Linked DNA regions of Homo sapiens. The protein of the gene in region 2 purifies or fractionates together with the protein of the main gene of each other region. This does not show direct contact. Each region holds a gene or a part of one and is shown on either strand. Other genes may lie near its edges.

Region 1 (3,936 bases), on a different chromosome or scaffold from region 2:
CTTTCTTTTCCAATGAACTGCTAAAGTTCCACTTTTATGCCCAAGATTCTTATCATACTTTTGTAAGATCAAGAACAACATGTGAAGTTTCCACTATTATATATCCACCCATTATATGTAGTTGTACTGGAAAAAATTAAAAGCTGATAACTTTTAATTTGAAGATGATGGTATATACTATGTATATATATTAAGGTGCTTAAAGATAAATCCTAGCACCTGAGGAGGTGTAGAAATCATTCAAACTCTTTGATTACAATGACAAACTAGTCAGTAACTTACTAAATATTGTACTATATATTACTAAGTATTTTACTCTTCAACATAGCTTTTTAAAGACACAAAGCTTTTCAAAATTCCTGCTTACCTGGGGGTAAAATTTGGGGAAGCAGATTTCTCCAGTGTTTAAAGAAGCCAATTTGGCAGTGTACCAGAGTTGAATACATTTTTCCCATCACAAGGGAATACATTTTTCCCATCTAAGTTAAGTTGTTTTTCTCTGGTAAAGGAGGAAATCAACACCCATCTGTACGGAGATAAACGTTTCAGAGTGTTTTTATATTAAATAATTAGTATACTAGTCTAGTAAGTGATAATCCACGAATAAGTTAAGAAGAGCTAAGAAAGAAAAAGAAAAGCATCCATCCATCCTTTGGTTGCAAATAATACTTACATTAGCGTATGGCAAAATTTAATTTTGTACAGAGTAATTTAACCCAGGATTGCTGACTTTTTAAGAGCTGAGAAAGCATAGCTATGGAGCGCAAGGCCCCACCCAGCAGGGTCTAAGTATTCCGTCTGCAAAACTGGCAGGCCACCAACGGCCGCGTCCCAGGGCGGCCTGAAGGATGCTGATAACCGGGAGCCCCGCCCTGGGTTCGGCTATCCCGGGCACCCCGGGCCGGCGGGGCGAGGCTCTCCAATTGCTGGGCCAGAGCGGGACCCTTCCTTTCCGCACCCTCCTGGGTATCTCCGGTCTTCAGGCCTCCTTCGGAGAGCCCTGCTCCGAGCCCATTGGGCTTCCAATCTTGGCCTGCCTAGCGCCGAGCAGCCAATCAGAAGGCAGTCCTCCCGAGGGGGCGGGACGAGGGGGTGGTGCTGATTGGCTGAGCCTGAAGTCGCCACGGACTCGGGGCAACAGGCAGATTTGCCTGCTGAGGGTGGAGACCCACGAGCCGAGGCCTCCTGCAGTGTTCTGCACAGCAAACCGCACGCTATGGCTGACAGCCGGGATCCCGCCAGCGACCAGATGCAGCACTGGAAGGAGCAGCGGGCCGCGCAGGTACACTCTGTGCTCCCCGAGCGGGCCCGAAGGTCCGTTTAGAAAGCGGGGGCGTCGGCAAGTAAAGGCCCGGCTTCCCCCGGGGCGGCGCTTGGAGGGACTGTACCGCGGCTCACTGGGCAGGGGGGATCCCCTTCGGTGCAGACGGACTTTTACATTCGCCGAAGCAGGGGAGGGGGGTCCGGGTAGTGGGGCGCGGGACTGCAGGCTTTGTTGTCCGCGACAGGCTCGGGTGGTTGCTTCAGAATTTTGCACTTTTGCCAACTGGGACAGAGGTCGCAGCTTGAGGACAGATTGAGGGCTCATGGGGAAAGAGGCAGAGAGCTGCAGCTGCAAGGAAGTCAGTGAGGGGAGAAGTGGAACCAGGCTCTAATGGTGCCCTTCTTGAAATACTGTTTACACGCTTTCATAGTTGTGGGGTCCCAGCAGGGCAGGGATTGTGTTTTACAATCTTGAGGTCTCCAGCACCAGTCACAGTGACTGGTACGTACTATGCACATTATTAAACGACTAAATAAAAGAACTTTTACATTCATTGTCTCATTTGCACTTCAAAATGTCAAGCCTAGCATTTTAGAGCTGGGGGGTGACATTAGGGATTGATTAATGCGTTTATTCTATTCTTTGAGCACCTGTAGGTGCTAGGCACTGTTCGGGGCAAGGTGTACAAATTCCAGTGCGGCAAGAACAACACCCTTGAGAAGCTGAGAGTCTAGTCTGGGAGACGAGACACATAAACAGATGATTACACTCCAGCGTGGTGAGGGCTCTAATAGAGGTTATCTGTAGAATGTAGAGGGAGTGACCAGGTGGGCCGGACAAAGCAGGTGACATTTGAACAGGAATTTTTTTAAATGAGTAGGATTTTAACTTGGTGGTGGGGGAGGCATTCCTGGCCTGTGCCCACGGCTGCAGAGTCTCAGAGGGCATCTATGAGGAGGTTGGATTAGATGAGACCACATCTGGTCTGAGTCTACTGTTGGCAGATTGGCCCAGGGAGTCTAAAGGTCTTGCCCTGTTCCCTGGCTGCTGGTTAATGGTAGACAGAGGACTGCAGCCCTGTTTTCCCTATTCTGCCTAGTGCTCTTGCTCAAAACTCAGGTTCGTGAACTGGGGTATTAATGCTAAGTGCTCATGGATTGCTTTAATGGTTCCCTGTTTGGGAAAAGGCTGCCATTCTCCTCCAAGGGCCTGGAAAATCTCCCCTCTTGGCCCTGTTCTTTGTTATATACCATTAGGTTGGTTCATGAGCTCTTAAAGTAAACCAGAGAGAGGTAGAGTCTTAGTAAAGGATGTGCCACTACTTAGTGGCAGAGACAAGGTTAGAATTCAGCTTCTTGGACCCAAGACTCTTTCCTTACCCAGTGGGTGCAAATCCTGGTTCACACTGAAGTTTTCATGAATACTCGGTGAATTGAGAAAAGTGTGGACAAAGTAGTGAGATTTTTACAAAACAAAATATTTTCTTTTTCTTTTTCTTTTCTTTTCTTTTTTTTTTTTTGAGACGGAGTCTTGCTCTGTTGCCCAGGCTGGAGTGCAGTGGTATGATCTCCACTCACTGCAAACTCCGCCTCCCGGATTCAAGCAATTCTCCTGCCTCAGCCTCCCGAGTAGCTGGGATTACAGGTGTCCACCACCACACCCAGCTAATTTTTGTATTTTTAGTAGAGATGGGGTTTCACCATGTTGGCCAGGCTGGACTGGAACTCCTGACCTCAGGAGATCTGCCCGCCTTGGCCTCCCAAAGTACCGAGATTACAGGTGTAATATTTTCATTTTTAAAGGACTCCCCTTTATTCTGAGACTAGCTGCCTTCTTCCTTGTTTGGGAGAATCATGAACTGTTGAAGTCCCTGCTGTTGATTTACCTTACATAGTTGCCCATGTGAGAAATGGCTGACTCCAAAACACATCTATAGTTGGGAGGCTCTTAATTGAAATACAGCCATCCCCTTTGTCCATGACATCTCAGGGCACTGTGTACATCGTCCTGATTGGCAGTCACATTGATGTCTTACTGTTCCTCAGTTTTAGCTGCTCTTAGTAAAAACCGCTTACTTCTTTTAGGCACTTCTCCCTCCACCCAGGGCCCTCCAAAAGGAATTATGCATATGCCTTATAGCCTATATAATTTTCAAACACTTTTTTTAAATGAAAAATTTCAAATATTCAGAAAAGTTGAAAAAATTTTGCAGTGTATATCTATATATCTGCCATCTAGATTCTACAAGGAACATTTTGCCCTGTGTCTTTTATTACGTTACTCCATCTGTCTGTCCATCCTTTAATTCATTCAAGTTGTTTCATGTATTAGCAGTTTGTTCTTTTCATTGCTGAGTAAGATTCCATTATTTGAATATACCACCATTTGGATATCCTGTTGCTGGACACCTGGGCTATTTAATTTTTTTTCTATTGTAAGTAAAGCTGCTGTGGCTGGGCATGAAGGCTTATGCCTATAACCCTACCACTTTTGGAGGCTGAGGTGGGAGGATAGTTTGAGCTCAGGAGTTGAGACCAGCCTAAGCAACATGGTGAAAACCCATCTCTACAACAAATAAAAGAAGTAGCCAGACATGGTGACACATGCCTGTAGTCCCAGCTACTCGGGAAGTTGAGTTGGGAGGATTGCTTGAGCTTGGGGTGTGGAGGCTG
Region 2 (3,500 bases):
GAGAATCCAAACTGTAACCTAAAACACCTACGGTAGGCGATTTTCTTTTTCTTCTTTCTTTCTTTTTTTGAGACAGGGTCTTGCTCTGTCCCCCAGCCTGGAGTGCAGTGGGGTGATTACGGCTCACTGCGGCTTCGGTCTTCCAGGCTTGATCGGTTCTCCCACCTCAGCCTCCTGAGTAGCTGGCTCTACAGGCATGTATTACCATGGCCAGGTAACTGTTTTCTGTAGAGATGAGGTCTTGTCATCTTTCCCGGGCTGGTTTTGAATTCTGGTGCTCAAGGAATCCTCCCACCTCGGCCTCCCAATGTGCTAGGATTACAGGCATGAGCCATCATGCCTGGCCTCATTTTTAAAGTGTTTGGAAATCTGGAAATCCTTAATTTCTATGTTTTCTTTTTTTTTTTTTTTTTTTGAGACGGAGCCTCGTTCTAGTTGCCCAGGCTGGAGTGCAGTGGCGCGATCTCGGCTTACTGCAACCTCTTCCTCCCGGGTTCTCGCTATTCTCCTGCCTCAGCCTCCTGAGTAGCTGGGACTACAGATGCCCGCCACCGTGCCTGGCTAATTTTTTTTGTATTTTTAGTAGAGATGGGTTTCACAGTGTTAGCCAGGATGGTCTCGATCTCCTGACCTCATGATCTGCCCGCCTTGGCCTTCCAAAGTGCTGGGATTACAGGCGTGAGCCACCACGCCCGGCCAATTTCTATGTTTTCAATATCTCAGACTGTATCACTTCGGATCCAGTTTTAAGATCAAACCCCTCCAGAAACTGAATATATGTGGGTGGGCACTTCTAAAGTCAGGTAGAGGGCCTGGAGAAGTGAAATATATATAACAATGGCCCCCAGTGACCTGGACTTCAGCAGCATGCTGCTTCTGCTGGGATCCAGTAATCAGGAAGCAGTGAGCCTGCCCCACCTCATAAACCCAGGGAACCATAGGTGGGATACCACCCCCAGAAAATGCAAAGTCTCCACAAATGGAATGGCGAGCTCTTCATCACTTCTCTCCCCAAAGTTTGTCAGTTGCATCTCTTGGATGCAACCTATTTTCCAACTAGAATCTGCAATCCTAATGCAAAGAGAATCTGCACGTCATTACTACTTAGCTTTGCTGTAGAGTAAAGAAAAAAAACACTAGAACACAGGGTACTTTTTTTCTTTTTTCAGACAGAGTCTCGCTTTGTCACCCAGGCTGGAGTGCAGTGGTGCGATCTTGGCTCACTGCAACCTCAGCCTCCAAGGTTCAAGCGATTCTCCTGATTGAGCTGAGTAGTTGGGATTACAGGCGTGCACCACCATACCCAGCTAATTTTTGTATTTTTAGTAGAGACCAGGTTTCACCATGTTAGCCAGACTGGTCTCAAACTCCTGACCTCAAGTGATCCACCTGCCTCAACCTCCCAAAGTGCTGGGATTACAGGCATGAGCCACCATTCCTGGCCTCCTGAAGTTTCTTAACCCATCCCCCTGAGGAATATTTCAAGCCTCAAGCCAGACCGTGATACCTTTATTTCCAAAGACTCAAAAGCTCAATGCAAACGGGTGGATTACCTGGTGTCTTGTTCCTGTAATCTCAGCTATGACTGTAATCCTAGATTCTCGGGAGGCTGGGGCAGGAGAATCGCTTGAACCCAGGAGGCGGAGGTTGCAGTGAGCCGAGATCACGCCATTGCACTCCAGCCTTGGCAACAAGAGTGAAACTCTGCCTTAAAAAAAACAAAACCAAAGGCTTCTACAGTGGCCTACAGGGCCTTATGGGGGATCCTCGTGTAAGTTATGAGCCATAAATCATTCTACTTTCTCACTAGCTCAGTATTTTATTTACAAGATTCCCTCCCCCAGTTAGCATGCTGGTTCATGATCTACCATCCTTCAGTTTCTTTCCTCATATCACTTTCCAAAAGAGGACTTAAATGACCAGCATAAGTCTAGCCAATCAATGCCTCTCTGTTTGACTTACCTCTACCCTGTTTATTTTAATACCATCATCCATTGTCTTCAATAGAACATATCGAGATGTCTGCTGTCACTAAAAACTCTGAGGACAAGGATTTCTTCTGCTCACTCCCCTCTGCCTTTCCTCACTACTGGAGCCCCAGCAAATATGCTGCTTGTTTTTTTGTTTTGTTTTGTTTGAGACCAAGTCTCACTCTTTCACCCAAGCTGGAATGCAGTGGTGATATGTTGGCTAACTACAACCTCTGCCTCCTGGTTCAGGCGATTCTCCTGCCTCTCGAGTAGCTGGAATTATAGGTGGTTCCACCATACCTGGCTAATTTTTGTATTTTCATTTTATGTTATATATTTGTGAGATGGAGTCTCATTCTATTGCCCAGGCTGGAGTGCAGTGGCGCAATCTGGGCTCACTGTAACCTCCGCCTCCCAGGCTGAAGCGATTCTTGTGCCTCAGCCTCCCAAGTAGCTAGCATTAAAGGCACACACCACCATGCATGGCTAATTTTTTGTAGAGATGGGGTTTTGCCATGTTGGCCTGGCTGGTCTCGAACTCCTGACCTCAGGTGATCTACCCTCCTCGGCCTCCCAAGGTGCTGGGGCTACAGGTGTCTGTCCCCACGCCCTGCCTAATCTTTGTATTTTTAGTAGAGATGGGGTTTGACCGTGTTGGCAAGGCTGGTCTCGAACACCTGGCCTCAAGTGATCCACCCGCCTTGGCCTCCCGAAGTGTTGGGATTACACGCTTGAGCCACTACCTGCTCAGTGAATGCGTGGATTTCCATGTTCTTCCTCAACAGCCTCTGGAGCTGCTCCCTCATGCCTTTCTATTGTCAGCATCTTGGATCTGCTCTCCTCAGCAATCAGAAGCTTGAAACTCTGGACCTGGGCCAGAATCATTTGTGGAAGAGTGGCATAATTAAGCTCTTTGGGGTTCTAAGACAAAGAACTGGATCCTTGAAGATACTCAGGTATGGGTTTTTTGTTTTGTTTTGTTTTGTTTTTTGTTTTTGTTTTTTTGAGATGGAGTCGTGCTCTGTCATTCAGGCTGGAGTGCAGTGGCGCAATCTTGGCTCACCGCAACCTCTGCCTCTCAGGTTCAAGCAATTCTCCTGCCTCAGCCTCATGAGTAGCTGGGCCTAGAGGCATGCCAACATGTCCAGCTAATTTTTTTCTTTTTCTTTTTTTTTTTTTGAGACGGAGTTTTGTTCTTGTAGCCCAGGCTGGAGTGCAGTGGTGCGATCTTGGCTCACTGCAACCCCCACCTCCTGGGTTCAAGCGATTCTCCCACCTTGGCCTCCCAAGTAGCTGGAATTACAGATGCCTGCCACCATGCCTGGCTAATTTTTTAGTAGAGAGGGGTTTCACCATGTTGGCCAGGCTAGTCTTGAACTCCTGACCTCAGGTGAGCCACCTGCCTCGGCCTCCCAAAGTGGTGGGATTACAGAGGTGAGCCATTGCACCCGGCCTTTTTGGTTTTTGCTTTTTGGGATGGAGTCTCACTGTTGCCCAGGCTGGAGTGCAGTGGCGCGATCTTGACTCACT

The links. Proteins that work in one complex are often made in the same cells at the same time.
Region 1: the proteins of NLRP7 (region 2) and CAT purify together in Homo sapiens (affinity purification with mass spectrometry, with the first as the bait; one study listed by BioGRID). This does not show direct contact.

What each region holds. Positions count from the first base shown.
Region 1 is NC_000011.10:34,437,798-34,441,733, forward strand, and holds the start of CAT (catalase), read left to right. Parts: upstream 1-1,136; 5' UTR 1,137-1,216; coding exon 1,217-1,282; intron 1,283-3,936. UniProt on the Homo sapiens protein: Catalyzes the degradation of hydrogen peroxide (H(2)O(2)) generated by peroxisomal oxidases to water and oxygen, thereby protecting cells from the toxic effects of hydrogen peroxide.
Region 2 is NC_000019.10:54,927,031-54,930,530, reverse strand, and holds part of NLRP7 (NACHT, LRR and PYD domains-containing protein 7), read left to right. Parts: coding exon 1-32; intron 33-2,755; coding exon 2,756-2,926; intron 2,927-3,500. UniProt on the Homo sapiens protein: Inhibits CASP1/caspase-1-dependent IL1B secretion.